Homo sapiens: one gene and its partner. The protein of the gene in region 2 purifies or fractionates together with the protein of the main gene of each other region. This does not show direct contact. Each region holds a gene or a part of one and is shown on either strand. Other genes may lie near its edges. The genes, in order: ZC3H11A and SPANXC.

Region 1 (3,824 bases), on a different chromosome or scaffold from region 2:
GCTTTAAAGAAGAACCACTGAGATTTAGGGTTAAGGCTAGAACTTTAGGAATTATTATCTTGAGATAAAATATATGAAACATAAAACTATCTTATTTCTGGCTATAACCAAACTGGAATATTTGGGCCCTTTTCTTACTGTTAAAATGAAAAACTATCATTCAAAACTATAGTCTTTTGCTTTTTGTGAAAAGTTGATTCAACTTGTTGGGACGACTTTTAGACTAATAGGAAAAATCTATGTTCTTTGGTAGCTAACAAACATATACTTTCCTACAATTTTAAAAATTGGCACACATATTAAGAAACCTGGACTTCTATAAATTAAATTTCTTATCTGCTGCACCTTCATGCTTGAAAATTCTAAATCGTTGACTCTAAAGATCAAGTTTATTCATTTATTTATTTTTTATCAGCCTCTTGAGCCAGAGTAGGCCCAGAGAGACTCCCTAAGATCACTTTTAAACCCTCCCTCCTTTTAAAAACTTAATGGCATTGCTTGAGTTACAACACTAAGGAGTAAGTATCCGTGTCAGAAAAAAAATCCTCACATTATAATAATATAAATTCTTACCTAAAGCATATGCAGCTAAAATTGAGCACACTTGTAAATTTGGCAATATATCCAGATGAAAGGTTTCTAAGCCAAATAATAACTGAAATTCGGGCACTTACACGAAAGGCCAATAGCATTCTGTCTGGGGTCTCTTGTCAAGATGGATCCCAGGCTGATATGATGATGTAAGATTACTTAGCTCACAACATCAAGACTTTCCTACATCAGTTTTATTTAAAACACAAACAAGTATTTCTCTTTCTGTAAGGGCAAATGGTTCAAATAATGCGGAACACGAAACATTGACTAATACAAGTGCTTTAAATATGAAACAAAATTATTTTTTAAAAAAGCAAAAGAATAAAGAATATATACAAAAGGGACCTGGAATCTGTAAGCTGATTCCAAAAACGAAATAAGTAGAAAATCCATGGTGAAACCTGAACATTCTACCTCTGCTTTGGAGAAGGGCTATCATACAACATTCAGTCAGCTGAAGATGGATTGGTAGAGGTGTGTCTATACATAAACTTCAGTCATTTTTGCTTGTGCAGAATCATCCCAATCTTCCCAAGACTGAATGGGCAGTCCTGTGGCTTTCTTCCTTTTCCATATTCCCAACAAGGCTACGTGAAGTTCAACTCTTGATGAGCCGCTTACAACAGCAGTTCCTTAGGAGCCAACATGACAGGTGGGTCAGATTTCCCTATGAGAAACAAAACTGGCCACCTACAGCAAAATATCAAAATGGGTAAGTCCTTCCTTCCTCTTCCTCCTGATTATATACAACATATCTCCTTTCAAGACTATTATTTCCATCATGCTTATTCCTTCACAAATCTAAACCTTGAGGTGATATGAAGGAAACCAACATCAAGAAAAGAAAACTCAATTCAGAAATGAAGAAAACTGGCAGGTATACAATACACCCCCAGAGCATCTCAATATCCCTGGCACAGTACAATTCAGTGTACTGCTACAGCCCATAGATAAATATTGGCAGCTTGAATAAGCTCATTTTTTCCCTCAGGTGGTTAAAGGCCACCAAACAAATACTGGGCAACAGGGGTTTGTTGGGAGAGTTAGAAATAAAAAATTAACCAAATTTTGTCCCTGTGTTAATTCAATGCCAGCAAGGAGGCAAGTACTGAAGAAGAAAAAGGACAATTTTCATACTAAAAAAGAATTCCTCTAATCATGTCACCATCTCATATAATGAATCCAGGGAATCCCAGAAATAGAAAATTAGTTTCAGGGGACCCCTGAGGCACTTTAAAGCCTTTTAAAAAATTACAGTAATAATAAATTAGATATTGCTCTTCAGAGGCTAACAGAGCAGCAGAAGCATCAAGATCAGGTCCAAAGAGTTATGCCCACATTACAGGCTTCCTGAGCTGCTCAGCCCTCTTTAAAGCTTAGTTGAATCTTTAAATACCTTTAAAAAGACATACAATTTAACACAGACTGAGTGGGTATTTTTGTTTAGTGGTAGCATAAAATTTGGTCCTTAATGGTAGCAGCTGTCTTCATCCATTTCAAACTCAGGTAATATTAAGTACATCAAGACAATACATAAAGAATACAACAAAGAAGAAAAAAGCCAAAACTGACAAACACCTCAAGGAGTCACTAAGTTCGCTTGCACCCTTTCACTTGATCTCCCTCTCAGTCTCTTTTTTGTGGAGAGAAGGGTATGACAGAACTTTTTTCTCAAAAGATGATAAACAATGGCATCAAATGGACAAAATGGTTATAAAGTAACTTTAAAAATCTGACCCCAAGGAATCCAGGACACATACAGATAATTCAGAGGTATACTTCTGATTTGGGGCAAATTCTAGACTAAAGAAATGATCATCTCAGGTAAATGTTACAATAGATGAAACTAAGTCCAGTTTTTTGGCGATTTTTTTTTTAAAGTGTCCTCACTACCACCTTCAGCTATCAATCATTTCTGATAGCTCAAGCAGAAGGTCATCTTCATCTTTCCCAGGATCCAGGTCAATCTCAGCTTCCAATTTGCCTCCTGAAATCTCCCATATTAGTTTCTCAAAATCATCCTCCACAGAGAGTGGGGGCTTTCCTGTTGAGGCAGAGCTGAGTCGGCGAGTTTTCATGCTCATTTGGGATGAGGAAGGGCCAGACACCTCCGGGGGTGAGGAATCTGAAGAGGACTGGGTTGGAGGCAGCACAAGACTGTAAGAAAAAAAAGATTATTAGAAAACTGCCGTTTTAAAAATAGTTGGCTGAATCACCTAGTCTCACGGACACAAAGTGAGCAAAAATTTGTTTTTAAGAACATACATAAAGAAATAATTCTTTTACTGATTTGGGATCAAGCTTTTTTTTTTTTTTTTTTTTTTTTTTTGAGGCAGAGTCTCCCTTTGTCACCCAGGCTGGAGTGTAGTGGTACAATCATGGCTCACTGCAGCCTCGACCTCCTGGGCTCAAGCGATCATTTTGCCTCCGCCTCCCAAGTAGCTGGGTCTACAGGTGTGTGTCACCATGTGATTTTTTTTTTATTTCTTTGATTTTTATTAGAGACAAGACCTCACTATGTTGTCCAGGCTGGTCTTGAACTCCTGAGCTCAAGTGATTCTCCAGCCCCAGTCTCCCAAAATGTTGGGATTACAGGCATAAGCCGCCTTGCCTGGCCAGCACCAAGCATTTTTATAACTCAAAGTAGGTGTTAAAGACATCTTTCAGGGGCCGGGCATGGTAGCTCATGCCTGTAATCCCAGCACTTTGGGAAGACGAGGAAGGTGGATCACTTGACGTCAGGAGTTTGAGACCACCCTGGACAATGTGGCAAAACCCTGTCACTACTAAAAATACAAAAATTAGCTAGGCCTTGTGGCAGGCACCTGTAATCCCAGCTACTTGGGAAGCTGAGGCAGGAGAATTGCTTGAACCCGGGAAGTGGAGGTTGCAGTGAGCAGAGATTGTGCCACTGCACTCCAGTCTGGGTGACACAGTGAGACGCTGCCTCAAACAAAAAAACAAAAAAACATCTTTTAGGTAATATAGCAAAATGTAAACAATGGCACCAAAGAAGAACAGCAACCCTAGATTTTCATACTTTCTTGCAATTAATTTGAAGTGCAACAGATTTATTTGAATGTTGCTAAAGTTATTTATCAGTGTTATTCTCTAGAGAGCCTAAACAGTAACAGGGGCCTGGAGTTTGTTTAGAAAGAATTACAAAGTATTACCTGTCTCTAGGATTTTCTGCTTCAGGCACAGTGACTGATTTGTCCTCAGAGACAAGC
Region 2 (3,350 bases):
ATTTTAAGACACATGGTAATCAAAATCTATAGCCTTAATTAAATGATGACTTTCAGGAAATTATCATGCAAAATGGAAGTGTTAGGAAGCCGATAATAGACACACTCTCCTAAAAATGATCTCACCACATCACACCTAACCCTTCTCACCACCTTGCAGTTCACATTCCATGGGAAAAAGCTCCTCATACTTAAGAGTGTTTTACTTTCCTTTTCCCAAGTCATGGCGATTTTGAATATTCACACTTTGCGGATATCAACACATTTCTAAAGCATACTTATCTTGATTAAAGACTGCTGAGGTCATTAAAACACTAACAAATATTTAAGATGCATTGAACATTTTGTTTTAGAATTGGCTTTTCAATCATTTCATCACAAGCAATGCTTTCCTGCCGTTTACTTACTCCTACATCTACTATCTTCTTTTGTATTGTGCTTTGTGTTTTACAGAACATTTACGCTTTATAAAGCATCTATTTCTAGCCTAGGAAAATATCAAATGGAAAGGGGATGGGAATACCTTTGATATGTACATTCAGCAGAACTATGTGCTGCCGGGTACAGTTGCGTGAACATATACACATCTCCACTTCCTGTGAGATAAAATTTTAAGAAGAAAATTTTCTTTAGGAATCAGTCCTCCCCCAGGCCTTATTTACAATGTCTGGCTTACTGTCAACCTGTGGGTCTGTCCACCAACCCTACAGGACCTCATATCCCTCCCTTCTCAAATGCCTACCTCTTCCCTTCCCTTCCCTTCCCCCGCCACCATCAGAAAACAGGCAGAGATATACACAGCCATCAGCTTCTCAAACTTTATTTTCATTGCCCAAGGTTGAGAGATGTAGCTTCTTGCTACTTTGCAGGTATTTCAACCATTATTTCCATGAATTCCTCCTCCTCCATTTGGAGGGGGTTGATTCTGTTCTCTCGGGCGTGGTCATTCACCAGTTCCTCTGGAGATGTTCTTTTCACGTTCCTCCTGTAGCGAACCACTAGTATGGTCGAGGACTCAGATGTTTTTAGTTTTTTCGGAGCAGGTTGCGGGTCTGAGTACCCACTCGAGGTCTCCGGCATCTGTTAAGAAAGCAGGGAGAGGCCAGGAGGACATTATTTTGGGTGAACAGGATAGAGACTGGATAGCAAGGGGGCTTCATGAGAAGAAGGAATGCGGGTTGAGGAAGGGGTTTGATCCAGAGAAGAAGAAGGTTGAAGCACAGAGTAGGGATCTATGGGGAAGAAGAAGAGGAGCGTGGGTAGGGTCACCTGTGAGTCCAAACTGCACCATTTTGTCAGTTCTTTGCTATTTTGCAGACCTTGGTCAAAGTGAAACATCCCATGGGGGTTCAGGCCGTGAGAAACATCCTGCCTAACCACCTGTCCGCAAGGCGGACAAAGGCCCAACTGAAGAAACATCCCTATCATATCTTGCTTGGCAGCGTTCTAAGGAACACCACAATGATATTCCACCAGAAAAAGGGCCAAACCACCTGATCATAAGAACATCTTATCAATATCCTGCCGGGCAGCAAGCCATACTGCCCAGGCCCCTCCCACCCCTACCTACAAGCACCCCAGCCTGTAAGCGGCGGTGGGCTCTGGCATTAAGCGGGCCCCCCACTTCCACAATGGTCTGCAATATTCCTGTGTTGTTGTTTGAGCCGCCCCCGCTCTGTGTGTCTTTCTTTCACCCTCGCCTTCAATTCAAAACCTAACAGTCTTACCATCTCGTTGGCCTCGTTGGAATCACAGGGGACGCTCCTCTTCACCCCGCCGGCACTGGATTGTTTGTCCATTGTATATATTGGTTCTTCAATGTCAGCGGCAGGCTTTTGTAGGTTTTGAATCTTCGCAGTGGCCCGGAGCTCTTGCCCTCCCTGTATATACCCTCCTGGTGACAAGGCAAAGCCACACCCTTGAGCTTTGTTTGATCATACAGGCAGTGTCCCAGCCAATGGCAGCCCTAGGGTGGCTTCACATCACAAAGCCCCACTGCTGACCACTCCCTGGGCTTGCGGGCGAGGGGTGACAGGGGTGTAGAGCAAACCAAATGCTGTTGTTGTTTCAGCATCCCCTGAAGATGCATCCCAAACCGATCTGCCGCCGCTCCTCATTTCTCCATGTTTAATGTTCACGGTTCACATGGAAGTCAGAGGATGATTCCTTCAAGCCCTTCCCCACAGCCATTCCTATTAAGTGATTCATTCTTTTGTCTTCCAGCCCTCACCATGACTTAGTATTTTCGATGTCTCACCTCAAATCCCCCAAGCTAGTGTGGCTACATTTATTTATTGGCAGAGATGTGAATTATCCCATTTCCCTCCTACAGTTCCTTCACATGCACCTCGAAGACCATTTACTTTTGGGCTACTGCCAGGCAAATTTCAACCCATGTTCTTTTACCCAATGTCCATGTAGTTCTTTTAAGTTTCCTATCTCCAATCTGAAATAATGGCCTTCAGTCTGTCAAAACTTTAGTGAATAAACATTCTTTACCGTGTATCCTAGTCTTGTTTCAAATCAGGGGTGTATATTTTTTTCTCTTTTTGAAATGGAGTTTCACTGTTGTTGCCCAGGCTGGAGTGCAATGGCATGATCTCAGCTCACTGCAACCTCTGCCTCCTGGGTTTAAGTGATTCTCTGGCTCAGCTTCCTGAGTAGCTGGGATTACAGGCCTGTGCCACCACGCCCGGCTAATTTTTGTATTTTTAGGAGAGACGGGGGTCTCACCATCTTGGCCAAGCTGGTCTTGAACTCCTGACCTCGTGATCCACCCGCCTTGGCCTCCAAAGTGCTGGGATTACAGGCGTGAGCCACCACACCCAGCCAGGACAGCCATTATTAAAACCACCATTGACAAGTAAATTTTGGTTACTTCTGTAGCATACAAGAATTTAACATAAAAGTTATAATTAATAACATACACAAGTTATTTCAGAAGTATAAGAGTTTCCCATAATTTTGGAGCACATATCAATGACATTTCTATAAATACAGCCCAAAGAAAGTCAAACAGCATTTTATATTTGACGATGCTTCTTGTATGATTTTTATACCAAATAAGACCAATATGTCTCTTTTGGACTTCAGAGGACTCATATCAAAAAATTAATGAGGAATCAAGTTAGAATTTGACTTTGGAAAGTTCGTCAAAGATAAAAAGTTTAAAATGCTTGATATCACGAAATAGGGTCATGGGTCATTGTAAAATAAGTCATTCATTTAACCAAAGCAGTAACTCAAAGATTTCAAAAAAGAAAAAAAAAAGGTGAAAATCTTTATTCTTTGAGAGAGGAGGCTTAATATCCCAAACAATAAGCCCTAATTAAAAACAGGATGCGGCAAATG

What was found.
Region 1: the proteins of SPANXC (region 2) and ZC3H11A purify together in Homo sapiens (affinity purification with mass spectrometry; one large-scale study listed by BioGRID and IntAct). This does not show direct contact.

Annotation. Positions count from the first base shown.
Region 1 is NC_000001.11:203,851,068-203,854,891, reverse strand, and holds the end of ZC3H11A (zinc finger CCCH domain-containing protein 11A), read right to left. Parts: coding exon 3,768-3,824; intron 2,752-3,767; coding exon 2,493-2,751; 3' UTR 768-2,492; downstream 1-767. UniProt on the Homo sapiens protein: Through its association with TREX complex components, may participate in the export and post-transcriptional coordination of selected mRNA transcripts, including those required to maintain the metabolic processes in embryonic cells.
Region 2 is NC_000023.11:141,240,660-141,244,009, forward strand, and holds SPANXC (sperm protein associated with the nucleus on the X chromosome C), read right to left. Parts: upstream 1,859-3,350; 5' UTR 1,799-1,858; coding exon 1,727-1,798; intron 1,080-1,726; coding exon 858-1,079; 3' UTR 804-857; downstream 1-803.